4 linked regions of the Homo sapiens genome follow. The protein of the gene in region 2 interacts with the protein of the main gene of each other region in a pairwise test. Each region holds a gene or a part of one and is shown on either strand. Other genes may lie near its edges. The genes, in order: NDUFAB1, TOX2, HCK and LGALS4.

Region 1 (7,032 bases), on a different chromosome or scaffold from region 2:
TGTGACACTGTTCTCCCTTGGTTGGTTTGTCCTCCTACCTTGTTGGGACACTTTGCCTTTCAGGCTGGAGTGCAGTGGCATGATCGTGGCTCACTGCAGCCTTGACCTCCTGGACTCAAATGGTCCTCCTGCCTCAGCTTCCTGAGTAGCTGGGACTACAGGCATGAGCCACCACCCCTAATTTTTTGATGTCTGTCTTCTTTTTAGAGACGGAATCTCCTTATGTTGCCTAGGCTAGTTGTGAACTCTTGGGCTCAAGCAATCCTCCTGCCTCAGCCTCCCAAGTGCTGGGATTACAGGCATGAGCCATCACACCTGGTGTGCCTAACCCTTAAATGTTGGTGGGCTCCCGAGTTCTCTTACCACACATGCTCCCTGGACTCTTCACTCCTGGTTTCTGTTATTGCTGTATATCCCAGACCTCCGCCTCCAGTCCTTGTTCATCTCATTTGGACCATTGCTCATGCTACCTATTCCCTGCTGTGAAATTTCCTCTCCTCAAATCCATCCACTATGCCAACTTCAGAGCAACTAGTCACTCATTTACACCCTTTTTCCCAAAAGGAGCTAAGGCAGTTTTCCTGGGTATAAAAATACCAGATGATATAAAATAGAAGGTAAGGAAAAAACAAAAAAACAAAAACCAAGGGCAATGGCCTAAAATGCAGCCTGGAAGTCTTATACTTGATCCAGGTAGGCCCCGAATCTACACTGTCTAGCAGATGGAGCACAAAGATAATTTCCAGCAGTTCTATGGGGCATGGTACGCAGATGAAGACAGCACTTGTACAAAAAAAAGCTAGCTATTCCAGGACTGGGACCAGGACCAGACAAAGTCCCAGTCCCTTCCCATGGCCCTTAAGGCTCTGCAGACCTGGGCCCTCCCTCTTAGCCTCCAAGCCTGTCATCTGTGTACCATCTCCCAACATGAGCTGATGTCTTCTCACATAGACACAGGCACTGCACTTTCATGACTTTTTTTTTTTTTTTTTTTCCAGACAAGGTCTCTGTCACTTAGGCTGGAGTGCAGTGGCATGATCATATATCAGTGCAGCTTCAAACTCCTGGGCTCAAGCAATCCTTCTGCCTCAGTCCCTTGACTAGCTGGGATAACTGGCCTGCGCTACCACGCCTGACCTCATTTCGTTTTCTTGACCTGTTCTTCCCTCTCCTTGAATTATCAGTCTCAGCTCTTTTCCTCACCAAATCCAAGTCTGGCATCCTCCTTTCCGGCCACTCAAGGACTGAGTGACAACTTTTGTTATTGCATCAGCCTACAGATACTTCTGTCATGGTGCTTGCCATATTTTTATTTCAACTAAAATGATCTGTGGATTGGTCTTTTCCATTAGAGTGTAAGCTTCTTTTGGGGGAAGGTTGTGTCTTATTCATCTTTGCATTTCCAGCCCATTGCACAGTTCTTGGCACACAGGTAAAGTTCCCAGGCTTCTGAGACAGTCGTGTAAATAAAGGCAAGGCATTGTGAAACAGGTGTGTGTAGTGCAAAAGCAAAAAGAGATACTTGACCAATCTCTCAGTGAACGTGATCTTGAAGGCCTGTGCAGAGGCCAGGAAGAGCCTGGCACTTACCTCCTTGTGGTTGACTCTTAGGGTGTCTGGAAGGGAACATTGTTGGGGGGAAGAGAGTGAGCATATCATGAAGGGAGCTGTATGCTGCAGCGAGGAATTGTGGGTATTCTCTGCAAAGGTCATAGGGAGTGAACATGAAACAGGGCTTATTGAAGGAATAAGCCCCAGGTGGCGGAGAAGGAACAGAGGTCTGTAAGCAGGAGTTTTGGAGACAGGTCAGGAGTTCATTTCCAAACTGTTGAGTTTGAGAGGTCTGGGCTGCCTGTGTAGAGTGGACCAGTCGGCAGTTTGTAGAGACGGCCTTTAAAGCCCTCTCCTTAGCCTCCTCTGAGTTTGCCTCAGGCAGAAGTGAGCCCCAGTGGAGTACCGGGATTCTGATGGAACCTCATCTGTTTGAATTACTAGCCCAGAGGGTCATCACTCTTTACCTGCAAACAGTACCTTCTCTGATGTCTGGGAGAGGTGGTTTATTTCCCATATACTTGTTAAGTGTAGATCTTGGGGAAGAACAACTAACACCAGAAACATCACATGTTGGCTGTTGGGGAGGTGCTTGTCCATTTTGTATCCCTTTTATTTTTTCCCAATCAACAGAGATCCAGTTAGAAGGAGCAGCAAGACCTTCCAGGAGGCCATGCTGGAAGGACATGGGGTGAGGAGGATACCTAACCTTCCCTTGCCTCAGTTTCTCATCTGTAAAAAGGAGGGTGATAGTATCATGGATCTCACCAGAATACTGGAGAGCTGAAGAAAGATGATGTGTGTAAAGTGCAATATCATAGCCTGAGCTGATAAGAAATTAATGGAGGCCGGGACGTGGTGGCTTATGCATGTAATCCCAGCACTTTGAGAGGCTGAGGTGAGTGGATCACTTGAGACCAGGAGTTCAGGACCAGCCTGGCCAACATGGTAAAACCTCATCTCCACTAAAAATACAGAAATTAGCCAGGCATGGTGGTGCACGCCTGTAATCCCAGCTACTTGGGAGGCAGAGGCATAAGAATCACTTGAACCTGGGAGGCAGAAGTTGTGGTGAGCCAAGGTCACAACACTGCACTCCAGCCTGGGCAACACAGTGAGACTCTGTCTGAAAAAAAAAAAAAAAAGAGACCAGAGGCAGGAGCATGAGAGGGTAGTAGGATCAAGTATTTTGGGGCTACGCTACAGCCAAGGTATCAAACTAGCTGCTGCTGGTCATTGTTCTCAGGATCCTACTAAATAACCCTAAATAGCACTTACTGTGTTAAGTGCCAGCCAATGTCCAAGCCTTTACTTCATCTCACTGATGCTTCACAACAGTCCTGTGAGTGTGGTACTGTTGTTTATCCCCATTTTACAGATGAGGAAACTGAGATGTAGAAGGTTAAGTAACCCACCCAAGGCCAAACAACTAGTGAGAGCCAGCACCATGGTGCAGGCATAGGTGGTCTAGTTTCAGCGTCTGAGCTCTTGCCCACTAACTTACTGCCTCACGCTGATCCTGATGCAGCACCCACTCTAGATTGGCATGTGGCCTCCAGTCAGAGACTCGTTTAATTTAATCACATGGTGCCCACCTGGCCCTTGTAGGTACTTGCTGGAGCTGCTGAGGACAATGCTGACAACCTAGTTGGCCTCATGGGTAGTTGTGTACGAACATAGAATATACCCTCACCAGGGGTCTTGCTTTGTTGCCCAGGTTGGTCTGGAACTCCTGGGCTCAAGCGATCCTTCCACTTTGGCCTCCCAAAGTGTTGGGATTACAGGCGTGAGCCACCACACCTGGCATCGTACCATTTCTTTTTTTTTTTTTTTTTTTTTTTCTTTTTGGAGACAGAGTCTCACCCTGCCGCCCAGGCTGGAGTGTAGAGCCATGATCTCAGTTCACTGCAACCTCTGCCTCCTAGGTTCAAGTGATCCTCCCACTTCAGCCTCCTGATTAGCTGGGATTATAGGCACACGCCACGATGCCCGGCTAATTTTTGGACTTTCAGTAGAGATGGAGGTTTCACTGTGTTGGGCAGGCTGGTCTTAAACTCCTGACCTCAAGAGATCCGCCCACCTTGGCCTCCCAAAGTGCTGGGATTACAGGCGTGAGCCACCACACCTGGCCTCGTACCATTTCTTGATAAGCACACAGCCTCTGTTAGATCCCTCCAACTGAAATTTCTTTTCTGCCATTGCCATATTACCTCATTTCTTCTCCCCCTTTCTCTTTATTCCTTTCTTCTCCATTTTATTTGTGACTTGGAAACCTATTTGAGTCATTGTTAAGTAGGCCGGTCATGTGCCTGTATAAAAGGTCTCCTTAACCCATGTATAATACGAAAGGAGACTAGACATTTAGACAAAGAAACATGCTCTAAAACTCTTGAAAGTACTCAGAAAGGCTCGTTAGAATATCTATCATACTCTCCAACTCATCTCTTTAGTTTGCTGATTAAACCTGATTTTTTTTTTTTTTTTCTTGAGACGGAATCTCACTCTGTCACCCATGCTGGAGTGTAAATGGCATGATCTTGGCTCACTGCAACCTCCGACTCCCAAGTTCAAGCGATTCTTCTGCTTCAGCCTCCTGAGTAGATGGGATTACAGGCACATGTTACCACGCCCAGCTAACTTATATTTTTGGTAGAGACGGGGTTTCTCCATGTTGGTCAGGCTAGTGTCGAACTCCTGACCTCGTGATCCGCCTGCTTCGGCTTCCCAAAGTGTGGCAATTACAGGTGTGAGCCACTGCGCCCAGCCTAAACCTGATTTTAATAACTGACTTCTTTTTCTTTTCTTTTTTGAGACAGAGTCTCGCTCTGTGGCCCAAGGTGGAGTGCAGTGGCACAGTCTCGGCTCACTGCAACCTCTGTCTGGGTTCAAGCAATTCTCATGCCTCAGCTACCTGAATAGCTGGGATTACAGGCACACACCACCACGCCCAGCTAATTTTTGTATTTTTAGTAGAGACGAGGCTTCACCATGTTGGCCAGGCTGGTCTCGAACTCCTGGCCTCAAGTGATTGGCTCACCTCGGCCTCCCAAAGTGCTGGGATTACAGGTGTGAGACACACATCGGCCCAATACCTGTTCTTTATGCAAGATGAATGTTTCTTCTACAGAGGTTATACTGGTTTGGTTCTCTGGGCAGTATTTATTATGATTTTTCATGGACCTTTGTGAGTTTCAGGGACCTGAGCCCTAACAAGCAGCCCCACTTTCTATAGGGAAATGCCTGAAGAACGCCAAGCCTCGGACTTAAAATCAACTTCAGGAGGTAAACAAACCAATTTAGATTAGGGATTTCTTTCTTTTTCTTTTTTTTGAGACGGAGTCTTGCTTTGTCGCCCAGGCTGGAATGCAATGGCGCAGGCTCGGCTCACTGCAACCTCTCCTCCCACATTCAAGCGATTCTCCTTCCTCAGTCTCCTGAGTAGCTGGGATTACAGGCGCCCACCACCACGCCTGGCTAATTTTTGTATTTTTAGTAGAGACGGGGTTTCACCATGTTGGCCAGGCTGGTCTCGAACTCCTGACCTCAGGTGATCTGCTCACCGTGGCCTCCCAAAGTGTTGTGATTATAGGCGTGAGCCACCACGACTAGCCAGATTAGGGATTTCAGTAGTGAGCAAAACTGCCAGATACCCTGTTTTGTTTTCTCTGATTCTGCGTCGTACCTTCCACAGCATTAAACCCCCTGACCTGTAATTGCAGCTCATTCCACATTTGTTGAATGAAATCTGGTCAATACCCTAATACCTAAACATTGAGCCGACTAATACCAGAGATACGTGAGGTATTGCTCTAACATGGCACAGGCCAGAAGGGCTCATGGTTTGGCTGGTGGCCATGAGGCAAGCCTCGCTGGAAGGGAAACAGATTGGAATGTAGTGACTGTAAGCTCCCTCATCCCCTCTTTGGGTGGGAGGCCAGCTTCCTTTGTCCTGGCTGAGATCAGGGAGATAACTGCTGGAACCAAACTAGACCTTTCTGGTGTATGGTCCTCAATTTGAATTGCCTTTGGGTTTACCATGACAGCTCTTTCCTTTTGGGTTATTTTGACTTGGGTCAGCCTATTAAAGGTGGCAGCACCCTGTAGAGGCCTCGGGATGCTGAAGATGCCATGAGAAGACACAGGCATTCTGCAGACGCTAGACAATTTTAGTGGCAGTTAGTGTCGCAGAGCAGTATGAATGTCCAGAGCCTGAGGGTTGAAGCCAGGAGGCAGAGGGGCCGGTCCTGACTCCCAGGAAGGAGGCCTGAGATGCTGCTGAACTGTTGGGGCTTCTGCGATTACCCAGTCCTGCAACTTAGTGTGTCCTGGTGGCCACAATGAGAATCAGATGCTGTGGGTTCTCTAAAGCCCCGAAAGTTCTGTGAAAGTTACCTATAGGCTTGTGCATTGATTTAGAGGTATTTTCCATTCAATGACAGTGTTTCCTTCCTGCCGTCGCTCTAGGTTCCTGGTAGAGTTACACAGTTGTGCCGCCAGTATAGCGACATGCCTCCTTTGACGTTAGAGGGCATCCAGGACCGTGTTCTTTACGTATTGAAACTCTATGACAAGATTGACCCAGAGAAGGTAACTGATGGTGGTTTGAATTTTTTTCTTTAAATATAGAGTATTTAATTACATGCTAGAAAATGCAAAGGGAAAGATACTCAGTAAAAATCTCCCTGGCTCCCAGACACCCAGGCCCATTCTGGGAGATAGCCAGCGCTACCAGTTTCATGTATGTTTCCAAAGGTACTCAATGCATATGTTAAAGAAGTATACACACGTGTGTATATTATATGTATGTATCTCTCACCCTTTTTAAAAAACACAACTGGCCGGGCACTGTGGCTCATGCCTGTAATCCCAGCACTTTGGGAGGCCGAGGCGGGCGGATCACCTGAGGTCGGGAATTCAAGACCAGCCTGACTAACATGTAGAAACTTCATCTCTACTAAAAATACAAAATTAGCCGGGCATGGTGGCACATACCTGTAATCCCAGCTACTCGGGAGGCTGAGGCAGCAGAATCACTTGAACCCGGGAGGTGGAGGTTGCAGTGAGCCGAGATAGCGTGATTGCAGTCCAGCCTAGGCAACAAGAGTGAAACTCCATCTCAAAAATAATAATAAATAATAAAAACACAAGTGGGGCCGGGCGTGGTAGCTCACGCCTGTAATCCCAGCACTTTGGGAGGCCGAGGCGAGTGGATCATGAGGTCAGGAAATGAAGAGCAGCCTGGCCAAGATGGTGAAACCCCATCTCTACTAAAAATACACAAATTAGACAGGCGTGGTGGCAGACACCTGTAATCCCAGCCACTCGGGAGGATGAGGCAGAGAATTGCTTGAACCCGGGAGGGAGAGGGTGCAGTGAGCCGAGATCATGCCACTGCACACTGCAGCCTGGATGACAGGGTGAAACTCCATCTAACAACGAAAAAAAATTGAATCTGTTGTGTAGGTAAGGCAGTTTTTTTTT
Region 2 (5,297 bases):
CTACCGGGCTAGCCTCGTCTCCAAGGTAACACCCGGAATCTCCAGGCACAGCCCTGATCAGAGTGGGGCCACTTGAGGAATGGAGCAAGAACTGGGGCCCGTGGGAAGGGCCGGCACCCCAGGTCTTAGAAAGAATGGCTCAGACCTACATGGTCATGTCTGCAGGGCACCTACAGCATGCCAGGCTCATTCTGGGCACTTTACATGCATTTCATTGGCTTCTTCCAACAAGAACCCAGCACCCAGAGGGGTTGAGCAACTTGCCTGAAAAGATCCAGTTTGTTAAAGTGGCCGCACTAGGATTCAAACCCAGTTTTGCCAGTTTTATGTGGCCTTCACTTCTGACCGCTGATGGGGCTTGGGACACGCTACCCCAAAATATGGCACCTCCTCACCACACCGTCGGCCTCCTCTGTCAACACCAGCAACGTAGGAAGCTAAGTGTGGCTGCGGATGCGTGGCCCAAGTGGAGGTGGGTGTTGTTCCTGGTACAGAAGAGATGGCATCCAAACTGGTCTATAACAGGCCAAGTAAAAGGTGGTTCAAAGTCAAGGGAAAAACATCTACAAAGGCACAGAGGTTGGAAGGAGCATGATTAGAGCTGGCTCAGTGGGATGGTGCTTGTCTCACTGGCCAGGCTGAGGAGCATGGATTCCCCCAAGGGCAGGGGAGCCCCCCAAAGATAAAAGCAGTAGGTGACTGGATGGTCAGAGCCAAGGGGACTAAGGACCCTGTGCTATCTCTGGTTAGTCCAAGCTCTCTCCCAAGACAGCCAGCCAGCAGCCGTGTCAGTGGGTTGCAGAGCCTCCTGGCCTCACAGCCCATGTTCTGGCTCATCCCTCTTCTGTTCTCCAGTGACTGATATCTGTCTCCTTCCAGAGCTCCCCAGATCAAGGTGAGACCAAGAGCACTCAGGCAAACCCACCAGCCAAAATGCTCCCACCCAAGCAGCCCATGTATGCCATGCCAGGCCTGGCCTCCTTCCTGACGCCGTCGGACCTGCAGGCCTTCCGCAGTGGGGCCTCCCCTGCCAGCCTCGCCCGGACGCTGGGCTCCAAGTCTCTGCTGCCAGGCCTCAGTGCGTCCCCGCCGCCGCCACCCTCCTTCCCGCTCAGCCCCACACTGCACCAGCAGCTGTCACTGCCCCCTCACGCCCAGGGCGCCCTCCTCAGTCCACCTGTTAGCATGTCCCCAGCCCCCCAGCCCCCTGTCCTGCCCACCCCCATGGCACTCCAGGTGCAGCTGGCGATGAGCCCCTCACCTCCAGGGCCACAGGTAAGCAGGGAAGAGCAGAACAGCCCTTCTGTGACCGTGTGGGGAGGGGAAGCGGCTTTGCCCTTTCAAACCCTGGCCCTGCCACTCACCAGTGATATAACCTCAGCCTTGGCACCTGACCTCTCTGAGCCTCAGTTACCACATCTAGGAAGTGGGTCTCGCACACCTTACCTGAGATGTGCTGGCTGCAGTGAACAGTTCACGAGTTGCCAGACTGACTCTTAGGATACTCCAGTCCCCCCTTCCTGCATCCTCAGCCCTAGCCCTGGCCCTTCCCAAAGCCTTCGAGACCTTACCCCCGCTAATTGTTCCACAGAGATTGCTACGAGGTTCACATGGCCCTTAGAGGTCATTGGGTTCAGTAATTCCATTTTACAGATCGAGAAACTGAGGCCCAGAAAGGGAAAGGCCCTGAAAGCCAAGTCCTTCAGCCCCTGATTCAGCCAAGACAAGGGTTGAACATTTTGAAAGGTGCTCTACTGGGAGCAAGGCAGCAGCCCTGGAGGCAGCATCTCTTTGGTGTGGACACCCTTGGACACATGGGCTCTCACCCCGGGAGGCCTGGGACAGTCTGCCCCCTCATCTCTCCTTGGCTCATGGCCTCCTCCTTCCCACTCTGTAGGACTTCCCGCACATCTCTGAGTTCCCCAGCAGCTCGGGATCCTGCTCACCTGGCCCATCCAACCCCACCAGCAGCGGGGACTGGGACAGCAGCTACCCCAGTGGGGAGTGTGGCATCAGCACCTGCAGGTTAGTCCTCGCCCGTCCCTGCCTTTGTCCTGCCAGCCAGGGAGAGTGGGAACAGGATGGCCAGGGATGGGAGAATGGCCAAGGGCAACGTGGACAGGGGAGGACCCTGCAGTCACTGTCAGCCCTGCTGAGGGGATCGATATCTCAGATGACACCGCAGAGCCAGGCCCCGGAAGGACTCTGCTGGCCTGATGCTGAGGCCTGCTTGGGAAACTGACTAGTCTTCAGTCTTGCTGCTTCTTCCTTGCTCCTGTTTTTTTCACAAGTGCTTCCACGTGACATTCACAGATGAGTCCTGCATCTTAGGCCAGTTCCCTAGAAGCAGAGCCTGAGGCAGCAGGGATTGGGTGCCTTTGGGGATGCACTGGGGAAAGCTTGCAGGAGAAGGGGGTGAGGGAGGCAGGACAGGGTGGGGGAAGGAGCTGAGGGGGGATGTGGCCTCAGCTGAAGACTTGCTTCTGCCTCATCCCATGGGAGCCCTGGAGCATGAACGGTGCTAGAGTGGCTCCCACCTGGAGGTCAGGGAACTGGCTTTTTGAACCCTTCATCAGTCAGCCCTTGGCTGTGGGCTGCCCCGGGGTGAGTGTAGCCCACTGGGCAGGGCAGCTCCCAAGACTAGAACAGCTAAGAATGCAGGACAGGGGACCTCGGTGGGACACGGTGGGAGAAGGGACCCACTGTCTATCCCAAGGAATTACAGACACCTTAGAGACCCCTTCTCCCTGCACCCCAGTGTCCTCCCTAGTCCTCCTGTGGGCCTCCTGTCTCAGGCCTCTGTTCCTATCCTGCACTCCACCTTTCAAACCCATGCTAACACCTCCCTCTAGAAAGTCTTCCTGGATCCACGCCACCCCAACTCTGGGGAAGAGTGACCTTTCAACAACCGCAGCCAGCAGGAGAGGGAGAGTGCAGTGAGGAGGGACACTTGCTCCTTAACCCGCCAGCCAGGTTCCCATTCCCTTGGCAAAAATGAGTCCCGCAGCCACACCTGGGGGACGTAGTGCCAAGCAGCTGTCCCAGCGATAGCGCCACAACCTGGAAGGCACAGCGCACTTGTCGGGTGGCCACCTTGCTGCTGAGAAACGCTGCCCCCAGCCCTAGCCTCGGCCTCCCAGCACACGGCTGGTTCCTCTGCTGACCCACCAGCGCCCTTGGACACTGAACAAGTGACCAGCGCGCATGCCCCATTTCTGACATGCCTGAAGTGAGATTCTACATGGGTGGGTGGACTCAGCTCAGCAAGAATCCCTTCCCTGCACCCCAAGCAGGTGCAGACCCTCCTACCCCAGCCCTTTCCTGTCCCTAAGTTTCCTTCTCAAAAGTCAGAATACTTAGGGTATGTAGGGGAGTGTCACACAATGTCCAAGCCTCCTGAGGCTTGCCCATCACATCCAGCATGGAGGTCAGACCCCAGCAGGGCCGTATTTTAAAAACATAAAAAGCACCTGTCCTCCCTTAATTCAGTTTGAGATTTACAAATTCCTGTGATTAAAAACCCATGTGAGAGCAATGGTGACATCGGCGTGCGCCTCGATGAAAGACAGACACGCTACTGCCCTTTCACCCAGAGCTGAGGACCGGGTGGTCCCCTGCTGGGTTTCCGGGAGGGGTTTGGTTCTGCTTGGTGTAGAGGTGGGTGGGGGTGGGACTTGCAGATGCAAGTCCCTCATTCAGCCACAGAGGGGCAGCTGAATCCAGGGGTGGGGGTGGGGCGTACAGTGCAGGGGTCCTGGTGCTCCCCTGGCCCGGAGAGGTACCCAACAGCTTTGACAGCCCCTCCTCTCTCTCACAGCCTGCTCCCCAGGGACAAATCGCTCTACCTCACCTAATCCCGCCTCCCTACCATCCCTGAGGCTCGCTGGAAGGCACTGCTCAGAGCCTGAAGGGCTGACAGCAGAAAAGAGGCCCTGGCCAGAGGCAGGGTGGCCCATCGGAGAGAGCAGTGACACACCCATTGCCCGGGGGCTGAGTCTCTTCCTCAACCTCCCACCAGACTCTGCAGAGGCAGCCCACTGCCCACCACCAGCCCAAAGAACCTGCAGGAACCTTCCGCCCGCTGACCTGCTTGCTCCAGGGTAACTGTGGACCCTGTCCTCGCCCTGCGCACGGTACCCTATGTCTGGACACCCGGCCCCAGCTCCAGCCCCAGCCCAGGTGGGCCGCCCCTGGCGGGGTCGCTTACCAACGGACACCCACCCCAGATGCATGGGCCAGAGGGCCGGCCCCCGGCATAGATGTGCACATCGGTTTTCCAGTGTGAACAAAAGATTACGAAACCTAGAAACTGTTGGTTCCGTGTAAGTAGTTGACTACGTGTTTTAGAACTGTGCTGAAGACATCTGTAAGACTATTTTGTGGGGGAAAAAAGTAGTTTCCTTTAAGGTAAAAAGCATTTTATATGATCCTTAGCACATTTTTAAGTTTTATCTTAAGGGAGACGCGCACAAAAGCGGCTGCCAAACCGTTTCGTCATCCTCACAGCAAGGACCGGACGCTTGCTAGCCACCCCGGAGCACTGCTCTCCTTTTAATCATGTATTCATCTATTTTAAATTGCCGGCGACGACTTTTGTCTATTTATGAAGAAACCTTGAGAACGAAGTTACAGCTTATCCTACCGTGTGTGTGGTTTTGGGGTTTCGTTTGGGTTTGGGTTCTTGACGTCGTTTGCAGCTGTTTCCTGGCCCTGGCGAGTGTCTGTCTTGGTGCCCAGTGCTTCTCTCAAATCTCTTTATAATAAAACTTCTGAAAAGCTGAAAACAAGTCTGTGTCTCCTTGCCCTTGGTGAGCCAGGGTTGAACCCCCTAAAGTGGCATAGAGCCCCTCGGGCCAGACGGACACGGGTCAAAGTCTTGCCTGACCTTTACCAGCCCATGTGGGTTTGTGTGTGGGTGATGGGACCACTCTGACCTCAGTCTTGCCCTCTAAGGGGGTAACAGTGGTCAGACCCGTAGGGCTCTTGCGACGATGAGAAGGGGTGTGGGCAAGAACGCCGCCACACAGGAACTTGCATCAGCTGGTGACAGTGGCGAGCCCTTCCTCTGGAGGATGGGGCCACCCAGGCTTGTGGAGGTGAGCAGTGGGAATCCAGGGAGGAGGCCAAGGGGTTTTTCAAACCTGAGTGTAGGAAGCATCCCAGACAGGGAATTCTTTAAACCAGATTTCCCAGCAGATGTTAGATGGTGATACTAACAACGACAGCAAACAACAACAAAAGGCAAATAATAGTTGACTGTTTTAACTACATCTGGAAAAATACCAATTGCCTGGTGG
Region 3 (5,147 bases), about 12 Mb from region 2:
CGAACTCCTGATCTCAAGTGATCACCCACCTCAGTCTCCCAAAATGCTGGAACTATAGGCATGAGCCATTATGCCCGGCCAAGTAATGTTATGCAGTTTTGTTGTCTTAAGCTACCAGATATGTGGTAATTTGTTACAGGAGCAAGAGGAAACTAATATAGCCAGTAACTATTTTAGGGCAGTTAGAAAACCTCAAGCATTGAACCCCAATTTTCTTTCCTTTCCTTTCTTTCTTCTTCTTCATCTTTTTTTTTTTTTTTTAAACAGGGTCTCACTGTGTCGCTCAGGCTAGAGTGCAGTGGCACGATCATAGCTCACTGTGGCCTCGACCTCCTGGGCTCAAGCAATCCCCCGCTCCTCGGTCTCCCAAAGCACTGGTATTATAGGTGGGAGCCACAGCACCCAGTCTGAACCCCACTTGTCTTTGTATTTCTGGTCCCCGGGAGAGTCCTTCACCATTTCTGACTTGTCATACAGCAAGAAGGCAAATAGATATTCAGGAATTGGAAGGACAGGAAAACCAACGTTTTGGTAAAGACTTTGGCATTTATATCTTTTATTTAAATATTCATTTCACTATTTTGAAAGTTTCCCTTCCAAATCACAGCTGTAACTAAAATCCAACCATTCCAGGAAATAGAAATATCAACTTGGGGGCTTCCTGAGAATGTCAGATTGTGGATTGCAAGAGTCAAAAAGAGATTTTCCAGTCCAACCTACCCACTGGACAGATGAGGAAACTGTGGCTGAAGCGAGGGTGGGTGTCTGGGAGTAGGAAGGGGGTGTGGGCCCTGGCGGATGGTGCTGGAGCCACCTTGCAGCCACCACCTGGGCACCCCCTGGCCCTGCCCTGGTCCTCCCTATCATGGCTGCTGTTGGTACTGGCTCTCTGTGGCCGTGTAGAAGTCATCCAGCACACTCTGGATGTATTCGAAGGTCGGCCGCTCCTCCGGACGGTTTTTCCAGCAGCGCATCATGATGTTGTAGAGCTCCTCTGGGCAGTTCTCTGGGCGAGGCATCCGGTATCCACGCTCCAGAGCTCGGATCACTTCAGGGTTTGACATCCCTGAAAAGGAGCCGTGGAATTAGAAACGGAAGCAGTTGGGAAATGAGAGCCCAGGGGTGGCAGGCCCTGTGGCCTCCCCAGCAGGCATCACTCCCCACCTCACCTTGCAAGCTGAGCCCCTTCCACTGTGAAAGACAGACTTCCACCCTCAGCTTCACTTGCAGCTAGGACATGGGCCTGGGACCCAGTTTGGGCCAATGGGAGCTGATGGGGAGGTCTGCTGGGAAAGTGATGGAAAGGTTTTTCCTCCCGCTTAGAGGAGAGTCTTTGGAGAACGCACCCTTCATCTCTTCCTTTGAACACTGTGAGATACTTATGATACTTGGAGCTGACAACATGGAGAAGACCATCATAGAGACAGGAACCCAGAGTCCTGACAGCTGCTGAGTTGCTGAACTAACCAGTCACCAATGGAAGATTGGGAGTAATAGATTGCTTCTATTTCAGTTACTCTTTGTCTGTTATTTTGTTGCTTGCTGTGGAACACATCCTAATGGATTCAGCGTCTATTGTGTGTTGCCTGGTTTTGACTAGTGCACCCTCAAGACAAAACATTCAGGTGGCCAGATTCAATGTTAACCTATGGGTGGGACCATTTTTTTGTTCAGTTCAAGTTTCTATTAGCTATTCATAAGAATAGCCATTCAATGTCTGTGATCCCCAATTTTATATTATTAGTCTCAAACTCCAAACTCATGAACTCAAGTGCTTCCTTTACTTGGATGTCTCTATATTTAAGTCAACTCAAATTTAGCAGAGCTAAAACAGAGCTCTCCAATTTCTATCCCTAGACCATTACCCACCCTGTGGTGCAAAGCCAGGGTAATCATCCTTTATTCTCTCTCTCTCACCTCCTAAGTCAGCAAGTCAGATCTTTTCTCCTTTTGAAACGTAGCACCAGTTCATCAACGTATGCCAGTCACGAATGCCACCACCCTGTCCAGACCATCATCACCTCTGCCTGGGCCACTGCTGTGGCCTCCTCACTGGCTGCCACCCTGTTCCCTTTCCCTCCCATTCACTCTCCATGCTGAAAGCATCGCTTAAAAATGGAAATCACCAGCCCGGCAACATAGCAATACCTTGTCTCTCAAAAAATTTAAAGAATTAGCTGGGCATGGTGGTGTGTGTCTGTAATCCCAGCATTTTGGGAGGCCAAGGCTGGAGGATCGTTTGAGCCTGGAAGTTAGAGACCAGGCTGCACAACGTAGTGAGACCAAGTCTCTACAAAAAAATTAAAAAAATAAAAAATAGCCAGACATGGTGGCATGTGCCTATGGTCCCAGATACTCGGGAGGCTGAAGCGGGAGGATCATTTGAGCCTAGGAAGTCGAGGCTGCCATGAGCTATGATTACACCACTGCACTACAGCCTCAGTGACAGAGTGAGACCTTGTCTTAAAAAAAAAAAAAAAGGTGGAGAAAGGACAAGATCTGATTTAAAGTTTAGAATTATCCTTCTGGCTGCAAGTGGAGAATAGGCTGTAGGACGAGGAGGGAGAAAGCAGTAAGACTGATGAGGATGCCGCTGCACCATCTATGGGAGATGACGCTGGCCTGGATGCAGTGGAGACTGTGGGGTTCAAAGTGGTGAGACTTGGGATATGTTTTGGAGTCGAGTGGCCAAAACCCTGTGACTGCTCAGATGTCATAGGGGTGAGGCCAGGCACAGTGGCTCACGCCTGTAATCCCAGCACTTTGGGAGGCCGAGGCAGGCGCATCACCTAAGGTCAGCAGTTCGAGACCAGCCTGGCCAACATGGTGAAACCCCGTCTCTACTAAAAATACAAAAATTAGCCAGGCATGGTGGTGGATGCTTGTAATCCCAGTTACTCAGGAGGCTGAGGCAGGAGAATCGCTTGAACCTGGGAGGCGGAGGTTGCAGTGAGCCGAGATCACGTCACTGCACTCCAGCCTGGGTGACAGAGGGAGACTCCGTCTCAAAAAAAAAAAAAAAAAAAAAAAAAGTCATAGGAGTGAGAGAGAAGGAAGGGCCAAGGAAGCCCCCAGATTTCAGGCTTAAGACATTAGATGGATGGAGGTGCCTTTAACTAAGACAGGAAAGGTGAGGGAAGGTTGGGGGTGAGGATCAAGAACTCAGTTTGAATGGACATGTTGTTGAGATGAGCCCATTGCCAGACTGGGCCCTGGTAGCAGCCCTGAGCTGATGCCCCTTCCCTACCTGGGTAAGGGATCCGGCCGTAGGTGACGATCTCCATCAGCAGGATACCAAAGGACCAGACGTCTGACTTGATGGTGAAGGAGCCAAAGTTGATGGCTTCAGGAGCTGTCCACTTGATGGGGAACTTGGCCCCTGCAGGGTTGAACAGAGCAGAGTCGGGGAAGGCTGGGGAGTAGTGAGGGTTGGCTCTGCTAAGGTGGGGGAACAGGCAAGGGCAAGAGCTGCCAACATCTGCCCCTGCAGACCTGCAATTTCCCTGATACGTGGCCTCCCTGTGGAAGCAAGGGACATCCATCCTGAGGACAGATGGCTAAACAAGGAGGAGTGGGCTTAGGGGCCTGGGGTATGGTGTGGAAGTTCACTCTAGAATCCTCCTCGTTGATTCAGCTGATACCCCAGTTAACTGCAACTCCGAAGAGTGGAATCCCAGAGGTCACAGGTCTTTGGGGACAGAAGGACTTCAGGGGGCCTTGAGTCCAGGTTGCAGCTGATGCCTCAGTCCTCTCATCCTGGGCGATGGGAAAAGGGAGGATTCTGGCTCTCAGCCCATGAGGTTCCCACCAGTCACTATGTGTCTCTCCCTTTACCCGCCCTTCCTCCCACCTAGTCTGACATGGGTTTAGTTAGCCTTTTCATTTTTTTTTTCTTTTAGAGACAGAGTGCCCAGGCTGGAGCGCAGTGGCACAATCATAGTTCACTGAAGCCTCGAACTCCTGACCTCAAGCTATCCTCCTGCCTCAGCCTCTCAAGCCCCTGGGGTTACAGGTGTGCCCCATTATGCCAAGCTAATTAAAAAAATTTTTTTGGCCAGGTATGGTGGCTTGTGCCTGTAATCCCAGCACTTTGGGAGACCAAGGAGGAGGATCACCTGAGGTCAGGAATTCGAGACCAGCCTGGCCAACTCCATCTCTACTAAAAATACAAAATTAGCTGGGCATGGTGGCAGGTGCCTGTAGTTCCAGCTACAGGCTGAGACAGGAGAATCACTTGAACCCAGGGGATGGAGGTTGCAGTGAACCGAGATCACACCACTGCACTCCAGCCTGGATGATAGAGTCAGACTCCGTCTCAAAAATAAAATAAAATAAAATAAAATAAAATATAAAAAAATAGAAAAATTTGTAGAGACAGTGTTTTATTATGTTACCCAGCCTGTTCTCAAAACTCCTGGGCTCAAGTGATCCTCCCATCTTGGCCTCCTAAAGCACTGGGATTATAGGTGTGAGCCACCGCACCTGGCATAGTTATCCTTTTTTAAAAAGTGTTTAGTTTAATTATATCATGGTTGGTGAACATGGTCTATAGAATATATGTTCTTTGGAATTTGTTGAGACCTGCTTTATGACTGAGTACATGGTCAAGTTTTGAAAATGTTCTATGTGTGTGTTTGTGTGTGTGAGAGTGTGTGTGTGTGTATATGTTTTCTCCCTTCCTCCTTTGGATCTACAGACTTTTCTTGATTTCCTGCTTATCTTCTTCTGGTTTAGAAATTATACATTCTACTTTTATTCCTTTAGTCATTACATTTATTTATTTATTTATTTATTTATGTTTTGAGACAGGGTCTCGCTCTGTTTGCCCAGGCTGGAGTGCAGTGGTGTCATCTCAGCTCACTGCAAGTTCCGCCTCCCGGCTTTCACGCCATTCTCCTGCCTCAGTCTCCCAAGTAGCTGGGACTACAGGTGCCCGCCACCACGCCTGGCTAATTTTTTGTATTTTTAGTAGAGATGGGGTTTCACCGTGTTAGCCAGGATGGTCTCGATCTCCTGACCTCGTGATCCTCCCACCTCAGCCTCCCAAAGTGCTGGAATTACAGGCATGAGCCAACGTGCCCGGCCCTATTTATTTACTTTTTTGAGACAAAGTCTTGCTCTGTTACACAGGCTGGAGTGCAGTGACA
Region 4 (8,015 bases), on a different chromosome or scaffold from region 2:
TCTCTAAAAACATTAATGAGTTAATTTAAATAGTTCATTACTCACTACTCACCAGCCAGTGTGACCCCCTTGGGCAAGTGCTTAACCTCTCTGTGCCTTAGTTTACCCATTGGTAACACAAATAGTAATAGGACCTAGCTGGTACGGTTGCTGTGAGGATTCTGTGAGTAATGACTCCACAAATATTAGCTTTTATTTCCTTCCCACCCAACATGCAATCAATCCCTCACCAAGTCCTGTGTGAGTTGTTTTTTTTCCGCCTTGGTGGTTTGGGGGTTCGAACCTGCTGTGCCTGGGTTCTGATCCCTGGTTGAGTCAATGGGTGGGGCCTGGGAGCCTGGATGAGCTCCATCATGCCTTCTCACCAGGTATTGACCTGATGGACATGGCTTCGGACATCCTGCAGCCCAAAGGAGATGATGTGGCCCGGATCAGCTGGTACCTCCGTGACATCATCACTCGATACCAGGAGACCTTCAACGTCATCGAGAGGGTGACTCTAGGGGTCTGGAGGGGATCTTTCTCCATACGCGCCTCCCCTGGGCCAGCCCTGACCCCACTCTTCCTGTTCCCTCTCAGTGCCCCAAGCCCGTGATTGCTGCCGTCCATGGGGGCTGCATTGGCGGAGGTGAGTCTGCGGCTATCCTCCTGCTCGGGTGCTCCCCAGGTGGGGCTGCTGCTCCGATGCCGCGGCCACTGGCATCCAGCCTCAGCTCTGTCATGGGCCAGACTGTGTCCCAAGAGGCAGCCCCACCTCCCGGGAGCCAGGGTTGGTTCTGGTGGTCATTCAGCATCCCTGGCCTCTACCTCCTAGGTGTGGACCTTGTCACCGCCTGTGACATCCGGTACTGTGCCCAGGATGCTTTCTTCCAGGTGAAGGTGAGTCATCCTCCCGAGCTCCTGCTTAGAGCTGGGCAGTGGGGTGAGGTTGGGGGGCCTGGAGTGAGCCTCGAGGGCTTCATGGAAGAGTCGGAGTTGAACCCGACAAAGTAAGACTTGCCCATAGAGGAAGTCAAGAGGTGAAGTTGTGAGTGGGTAAGGTATGAGGTGGGGTTGAGGCTGGCAGGTGTCAGAGGCAGAGATTGCTCCTGGGGCCATACTGGTGAGGGTGGGAGGCAGGATGGAGCCGGGGGATGCAGTAAAGGGGTCTCAGGTAGGGTGAGGAGGGTTCCTCTCTCACAGATGGAGCTGCCCTGAGGGAATGGGAGGGTGCATGAGTGGGAAGGTGGGCTCTATTCTAGGTTGAAGGAACTTGCCTGAGTCAAGAAGCTGCCTGGGCAATGGAATGGGACTTTGGAGGAAGTCACTGGGGTGAAGGTGGGGCGGGACTCTCCAGTAGACATGAAATTTCATGGACGTTGACATTGCGAGGGGCACAGTATTGGGCAGAAACCAAACACTGACCCGATTCCTCCCCCAGGAGGTGGACGTGGGTTTGGCTGCCGATGTAGGAACACTGCAGCGCCTGCCCAAGGTCATCGGGAACCAGAGGTGGGTGCAGGGGGTGTGGGGGTGTGGGCAGGAGACCCCAGAGCATCTCCCAGCCCCGGGGTGGCAGCCGCCTCCTGATGCACGCTTGCCTTTGCAGCCTGGTCAACGAGCTGGCCTTCACCGCCCGCAAGATGATGGCTGACGAGGCCCTGGGCAGTGGGCTGGTCAGGTAGGGCCATGGCCGTGGTAGCTCAGTGCTGGGGGCAGCCAGGCCTGGAGGGTTGGAGGCCTCTCCGGGTCCCCTTGTCTCCTCGCTCTAGAATTCCTAGTGGCATCCTTTCTTGGTGAGCTCATTTCTTTATTGTGGGGTCAGCCCCCTGCTCTGATTGGGCTGTTTCTCTGGGGTCTTGGGCCTTCCTCTGTGAGTGGCCACTTCTTCATCTGCGGGAGGCTGGAGGAGAGAGCCCTTCCCAGCCCACCCGGTCCCTGATCTCTTTCACTGCAGCCGGGTGTTCCCAGACAAAGAGGTCATGCTGGATGCTGCCTTAGCGCTGGCGGCCGAGATTTCCAGCAAGAGCCCCGTGGCGGTGCAGAGCACCAAGGTCAACCTGCTGTATTCCCGCGACCATTCGGTGGCCGAGAGCCTCAACTACGTGGTAAGGTGCACGCTCCGACCAATCACAGCCCTCCTCTAACCCCAGGCGACCAACCAGGGTGCAGGGTGCTCTCATGCTTTATCCTGATTGGCCCCTGCTAATCTCTCTCCTCGTTCTCTCTCAACACCCTCGGTACCAGGCGTCCTGGAACATGAGCATGCTGCAGACCCAAGACCTCGTGAAGTCGGTCCAGGCCACGACTGAGAACAAGGAACTGAAAACCGTCACCTTCTCCAAGCTCTGAGAGCCCTCGCGTCCCAGGCCCCAGCCAGGGGGCCGGCCTTGTCCCGCCTCATCCACAGAAAGGGAGGATGGGCGATGACAGTTGTTTCTATGCCTTCTGACCCAGTTTCCCAGTTTATAACTTTATGACAATGAGTTTCTCAAGCCCAAGGCCTTATCTTCACCCCACAAACAATAAAGCAAAGTAAAGAACCTGGTGCCCTTCTTGGATAGAGGAGAGGTGGGAGGGGCTGGGATGCACCTAGGGGCTCCAGAGACTGCAGTCCTGAAGGCTGGGGCTAGAGGTTGGATGCATGGGAATGGGTGGCATGGAGGTGATGGCCATTCAGACTGGCAGCGGGCAGGCGAGGGGCACAAGGAATTCCGGGGCGGAGGGAGTGAGCAAAAGTCGCTGGGGTCCCTCTGGGTTGCAAGGCTTCCTGGTCTCCCTGCCTGCCCTGGGGTTGAGGGTGGCGTTCGTGCCCTGCCTGGCACCTCTCACTGCACAGCACATGGGATCTGATGCTGGCGTCTCACACCTGTAATCCCAGCACTTTTGGAGGCTGACGCAGGTGGATTGCCTGAGCTCAGGAGTTTGCAACCAGCCTAGTCAACATGTTGAAACCCAGTCTCTACTAAAAATACAAAAATTAGCTAGGTGTGGTGGCAGGTGCCTCTAGTCCCAGCTACTCGGGAGGCTGAGGCAGGAGAATCCTTGAACCCAGGAGGTGAGTTTGCAGTGAGCTGAGATCATGCTGCTGCAGTCCAGCCTGGGTGACAGAGTGAGACTCTGTCTCAAAAAAAGAAAAAACAAAACAAAAAAGGACTTTGGGGTTTCTGGCCGGGTGCAGTGGCTCATGCCTGTAATTCCAGCACTTTGGGAGGTTGAGGCAGGTGGATCACTTGAGGTCAGGAGTTTGAGACCAGCCTGGCCAACATGGCAAAACCTGGTCTCTACTAAAAATACAAAAATTAGCCAGGCGTGGAGTAAGCCTGTAATCCCAGCTATTCAGAAGGCTGAGGCAGGAGAATCCCTTGAACCTGGGAGGTGGAGGTTGCAGTGAGCTGAGATGGTGCCACTGCACTGCAGCCTGGGTGATAGAGCAAGACTCTGTCTCAAAAATGAGCAAACAAAACTTTGGGATTTTTTATCCATATATCATCCCAATCTTCCGGATTTATGTTTGGAATGACTGCAAGAGACCAAGCATTAAGTTAATGACTTCTATATGCTATGTCCTGTTCTGAGCATTTATTATCTTAATGATCAAGGACTCTATGAAGTTGATACTATTATGATTATTATTATTATGACTATTATTGTTGCTATTTTTAGAGACGGACTCTTAGTCTGTCACCCAGGCTGGAGTGCAGTGGCATGATCATAGCTCACTGTAACCTTAACTCCTGGGTTCAAGCGATCCTCCTGCCTCAGCCTCTGAGTAGCTAGGAATACAGATGTGTGCTACCATGCCCAGCTAATTTTTATTTTATTTTTGTAGAGATGGGGGTCTCACTATGTTGCCCAGGCTGGTCTTGAACTCCTGGGCTCAAGCAGTCCTCCTGCTTCAGCTTCCCAAATTGCTGGGATTGTAGGCACAAGCCACCACACCCAGCCTAAGGTTGATACTACTCTTTTCTTTATTTATTTATTTTTCTGAGTGGCAGTTGGACCCACAGCTAGAACTTATTTGGCAGATTAATAACATACAGGCATTACTGGATCACAAATTCATTTTTAAAATATTTTGATAGCTATTCAATACTTGTTTCCTCTCTTATGAATTCCTTTTTTTTTTTTTTTTTTTTTGAAACAGAGTCTCCATCTGTCATCCAAGCTGGAGTGCAGTGGCGTGACCTTGGCTCACTGCACTCTCCTCCACTCAGGTTCAAGTGATTCTCCTGCCTCAGCCTCCAAGTAGATGGGATTATAGGCACCCACCACCATGCCTGGCTAATTTTTGTATTTTTAGTAGAGACTGGGATTTTGCCAGGCTGGTCTCGAACTCCTGCCCTCAGGTGATCCATCCACCTCGGCCAGTCAAAGTGCTGGGATTACAGGCATGAGCCACTGCACCCAGCCGATACTACTATATCCCCATTTTACAGATGAGCACATGGGCAAATTGAGGGTAAGGCACTGACCCATGATCATACAGCTGAGAAGTGGCAAAGGCAGGATTTGAACCTAGAACCTCTGGCTCCACACACTAGTAATCTAAACCACTCTCCCTACAATACAACATACGTGGTAAAGATGTGTGGTGGGCACGCAATCAACGTAGGTCCCTTCACAGTTGCTGGGAGAGGCAGGAATTTGCAGTTCCTCCGCGTTCTCCTCCTCCGCTGCCCACCTGTCCTGGGTCATTCCTGCAGCCTGCCCTGCCCTGCCTGGTCTCACCCTCCCTCTGCCAACAGAAGTCTGGGCAGGGTTTTATGGGCTCTGATAAGGCCCTGGCAGGGCCGAAGTTCATGAGCACTTCCTCTTTGCAGGAGGGCGTAGGGGAGGGGACCCAGGTGATTTGGGTCCTGGCTGGTCACCAGGGAAGCTGGCAAGGGAAGGGAGACTAGGGTGCGCTCTAGGAGAAGCCGACAGCCTGAGAGTCCCAGAAGAGGAGCCCTGTGGACCCTCCCCTGCCAGCCACTCCCTTACCCTGGGTATAAGAGCCACCACCGCCTGCCATCCGCCACCATCTCCCACTCCTGCAGCTCTTCTCACAGGACCAGCCACTAGCGCAGCCTCGAGCGATGGCCTATGTCCCCGCACCGGGCTACCAGCCCACCTACAACCCGGTGAGATGCCAGCTCAGGCCCCACTCCGCCCGCAGCTCCGTCCATAAGCCCTCACACCAATTTTCCCCACTCTGATCCTGGGGGGCCCCATCTGACTCTGTGGTCTGATTTACCCAAAGCTGACCCCGACCCTCGATTTACTCCTACCCTGACCTCAGGCTGTCTGTGTCCACGTCTAACTGTTGGCCCTCGTCATCTTCAACCTGGTCCTCCCCCATGGTTTCCTCTCTCCTGCTTAAGGGACTGGGGGGCTTTTCTGGGAGGGGTAAAGGCTGCAACAGGCAGATGGCTTGTGAGTCCCCTCACCAGGCCTCTTCTCCAGACGCTGCCTTACTACCAGCCCATCCCGGGCGGGCTCAACGTGGGAATGTCTGTTTACATCCAAGGAGTGGCCAGCGAGCACATGAAGCGGTAAGACCCTCCCCAAGCCAGGCCGGGCTGGCAGGGGACTTCCAACTGGGTGCTCTGGGCCTGGCTGTTGGGGGCTTTCTGCCCTTACCCCACCCTGGTGGAGAGGGGACTCTTTTTCTGCCCCACCCAATAGCCAGAGATGAATCTGGGGCAGATCAGGAGTGGGGACGTGGGGGCCAGAAGGTTCAGGGAGGGCTCACCGTGAGAGGCAGTCCCTGAGTTGGACATTAGACTGAAGCTGATGGGTGCAATGGCAGGAATTCAGATCACAGGCTCAGAGCCGGGTCCCCGAGTTAAAATCCCAGCTCTGCCACTCCCCAGCTCTGTGTTGGTGAAAGAGTGAAAGTGACTATACCTCTCTGTGCTTCATTTTCTTTTCTTTTCTGTTTTTGTTTTTTTTGTTTTTTTTTTTGTTTTGAGATGGAGTTTTGCTCTTGTCGCCCAGGCTGGAGTGCAATGGCATGATCTTGGCTCACTGCAACCTCTGTCTCCCAGGTTCAAGCGATTCTCCTGCCTCAGCCTCTTGAGTAGCTGGGATTACAGGCATGTGCCAGCACACTGGCTAATTTTTGTATTTTTAGTAGAGATGGGGTTTCACCATGTTGGTCAGGCTGGTCTCGAACTCCTGACCTCAAGTGATCCTCCCATCTCGGCCTCCCAAAGTGCTGGGATTACAGGCGTGAGCCACTGCGCCTGGCCCAGTCTTAGCTTTTTAAAAAGGGCCTTAACACGTTGATAATGATTGGCCTCATAGGACTTTTTTTTTCCTTAGAGATAGGGTCTTGCTCTGTTGCCCAAGCTGGAGTGCAGTGGCACAATATTATAGCTCACTTCGGCCTCCAACTCCTGGGCTAAAGTGATCCTCCTACCTCATCTTTCCAAGCAGATGGGACTACAGACATGTGCCACCATGCCCAACTAATTTAATTTTTAATTTTTATTTATTATTATTATTTGTTTTGTAGAGACAAAGTCTTGTTATGTTGCCCAGGCTGGTCTTGAACTCCTGTGCTCAAGCGATCCTCTAGCCTCGGCCTCCTAAAGTGCTGGGAGGATCAGGCACTGGTATGAGCCACTCTGCCCAGCCTGTTGTTTATTTATTTATTGTTTACTTCTTCACTGAGTGCCTATTCTGTGTCCTGGCACTAGGGATGGAGGAGTGAACAGGACAGAGACCCCTGCCCTCGTGGAGCTGATGTCCTAGTAGGGGAAACATAAAAAATAAGTCCAGGCCGGGCGCGGTAGCTCAGGCCTGTAATCCCAGCACTTTAGGAGGCCTAGGCAGGCAGATCACCTGAGATCGGGAGTTCAAGACCAGCCTGACCAAAATGGAGAAACCCTGTCTCTACTAAAAATACAAAATTACCAGGGCGTGGTGGCGCATGCCTGTAATCCCAGCTACTCAGGAGGCTGAGGCAGGAGAATCACTTGAACCTGGGAAGTGGAGGTTTCGGTGAGCCGAGATCGTGCCATTGCACTACAGCCTGGGCAACAAGAGTGAGACTCTGTCTCAAAAAAAAAAAAAAAAAAAGTCAAATATGTAAGATGTCAGATGATATTAAGTGCTATGAAGAAAATGAGGAGGGAAGGGAGATGGGGAGTGTATGTGCGGACAGAGGTTCCCTTTAAATTGTCCCCTTAAATAGGGTGGCCTGGCCGGGCATGGTGGCTTACGCCTGTAATCCCAGCACTTTGGGTGGCTAAGCCAGGCAGATCACCTGAGGTCAGGAGCTCGAGACTAGCCTGGCCAAAATGGCAAAATCGCATCTGGCTGGGCGTGGTGGCTCACGTCTGTAATCCCAGCACTTTGGGAGGCAGAGACGGGCGGATCACGAGGTCAGGAGATCGAGACCATCCTGGCTAACACAGTGAAACCCCGTCTCTACTAAAAATACAAAAAATTAGCTGGGCATGGTGGCGGGTGCCTGTAGTCCCAGCTACTCGGGAGGCTGAGGCAGGAGAATGGCGTGAAACCAGGAGGCGGAGCTTGCAGTGAGCCAAGATTGCGCCACTGCACTCCAGCCTGGGCGAAAGAGCGAGACTCCATCTCAAAAAAAAAAAAAAAAAAAAAAAAAAGGCGAAATCTCATCTCTGCTGAAAATACAAAATTAGCCAGGCATGGTGACAGGTGCCTGTAATCCCAGCTACTTGAGAGCCTGATGTGGGAGAATCACTTGAATCCTGAAGGCAGAGTTTGCAGTGAGCTGAGATCGCATCACTGCACTCCAGCCTAGGTGACAAAGGGAGACTGTCTCAAAAAAATTAAAAAGGTGGCCAGAGAAGGCCTGCCTGGGAAGGGAACATATCAGCAAAGAACAGAAGGAACGGAGAGAGGGATCCCCAGGGACAGCTGAGGGAAGGGCCTTCCAGGCAGAGGGAACAGCCAGTGCAAAGGCCCTGAGACAGGCCTGTCCTGGGGAGTAATTTCAAGGATGCTGGTGTGCCCAGGGGTGCGGAATATGATGCGTCATGGGTGTACACAGGGACCCTCTGGCTGCATGA

What was found.
Region 1: the proteins of TOX2 (region 2) and NDUFAB1 interact in binary tests that used the Homo sapiens proteins (3 or more experiments, as listed by UniProt).
Region 3: the proteins of TOX2 (region 2) and HCK interact in binary tests that used the Homo sapiens proteins (3 or more experiments, as listed by UniProt).
Region 4: the proteins of TOX2 (region 2) and LGALS4 interact in binary tests that used the Homo sapiens proteins (3 or more experiments, as listed by UniProt).

Annotation. Positions count from the first base shown.
Region 1 is NC_000016.10:23,586,303-23,593,334, reverse strand, and holds part of NDUFAB1 (acyl carrier protein, mitochondrial precursor), read left to right. Parts: intron 1-2,184; coding exon of another isoform or gene 2,185-2,242; intron 2,243-6,015; coding exon 6,016-6,138; intron 6,139-7,032. UniProt on the Homo sapiens protein: Carrier of the growing fatty acid chain in fatty acid biosynthesis.
Region 2 is NC_000020.11:44,064,833-44,070,129, forward strand, and holds the end of TOX2 (TOX high mobility group box family member 2), read left to right. Parts: coding exon 1-25; intron 26-879; coding exon 880-1,275; intron 1,276-1,897; coding exon 1,898-2,025; intron 2,026-3,817; coding exon 3,818-3,854; 3' UTR 3,855-4,784; downstream 4,785-5,297. UniProt on the Homo sapiens protein: Putative transcriptional activator involved in the hypothalamo-pituitary-gonadal system.
Region 3 is NC_000020.11:32,097,236-32,102,382, reverse strand, and holds the end of HCK (tyrosine-protein kinase HCK), read right to left. Parts: intron 3,380-5,147; coding exon 3,248-3,379; intron 1,067-3,247; coding exon 864-1,066; 3' UTR 527-863; downstream 1-526. UniProt on the Homo sapiens protein: Non-receptor tyrosine-protein kinase found in hematopoietic cells that transmits signals from cell surface receptors and plays an important role in the regulation of innate immune responses, including neutrophil, monocyte, macrophage and mast cell functions, phagocytosis, cell survival and proliferation, cell adhesion and migration.
Region 4 is NC_000019.10:38,809,929-38,817,943, reverse strand, and holds the start of LGALS4 (galectin-4), read left to right. Parts: upstream 1-4,998; 5' UTR 4,999-5,057; coding exon 5,058-5,102; intron 5,103-5,424; coding exon 5,425-5,513; intron 5,514-8,015. Other genes in the region: ECH1 (delta(3,5)-Delta(2,4)-dienoyl-CoA isomerase, mitochondrial precursor), read left to right, coding at 369-493, 580-628, 815-879, 1,421-1,491, 1,589-1,660, 1,937-2,087, 2,227-2,331. UniProt on the Homo sapiens protein: Galectin that binds lactose and a related range of sugars. May be involved in the assembly of adherens junctions.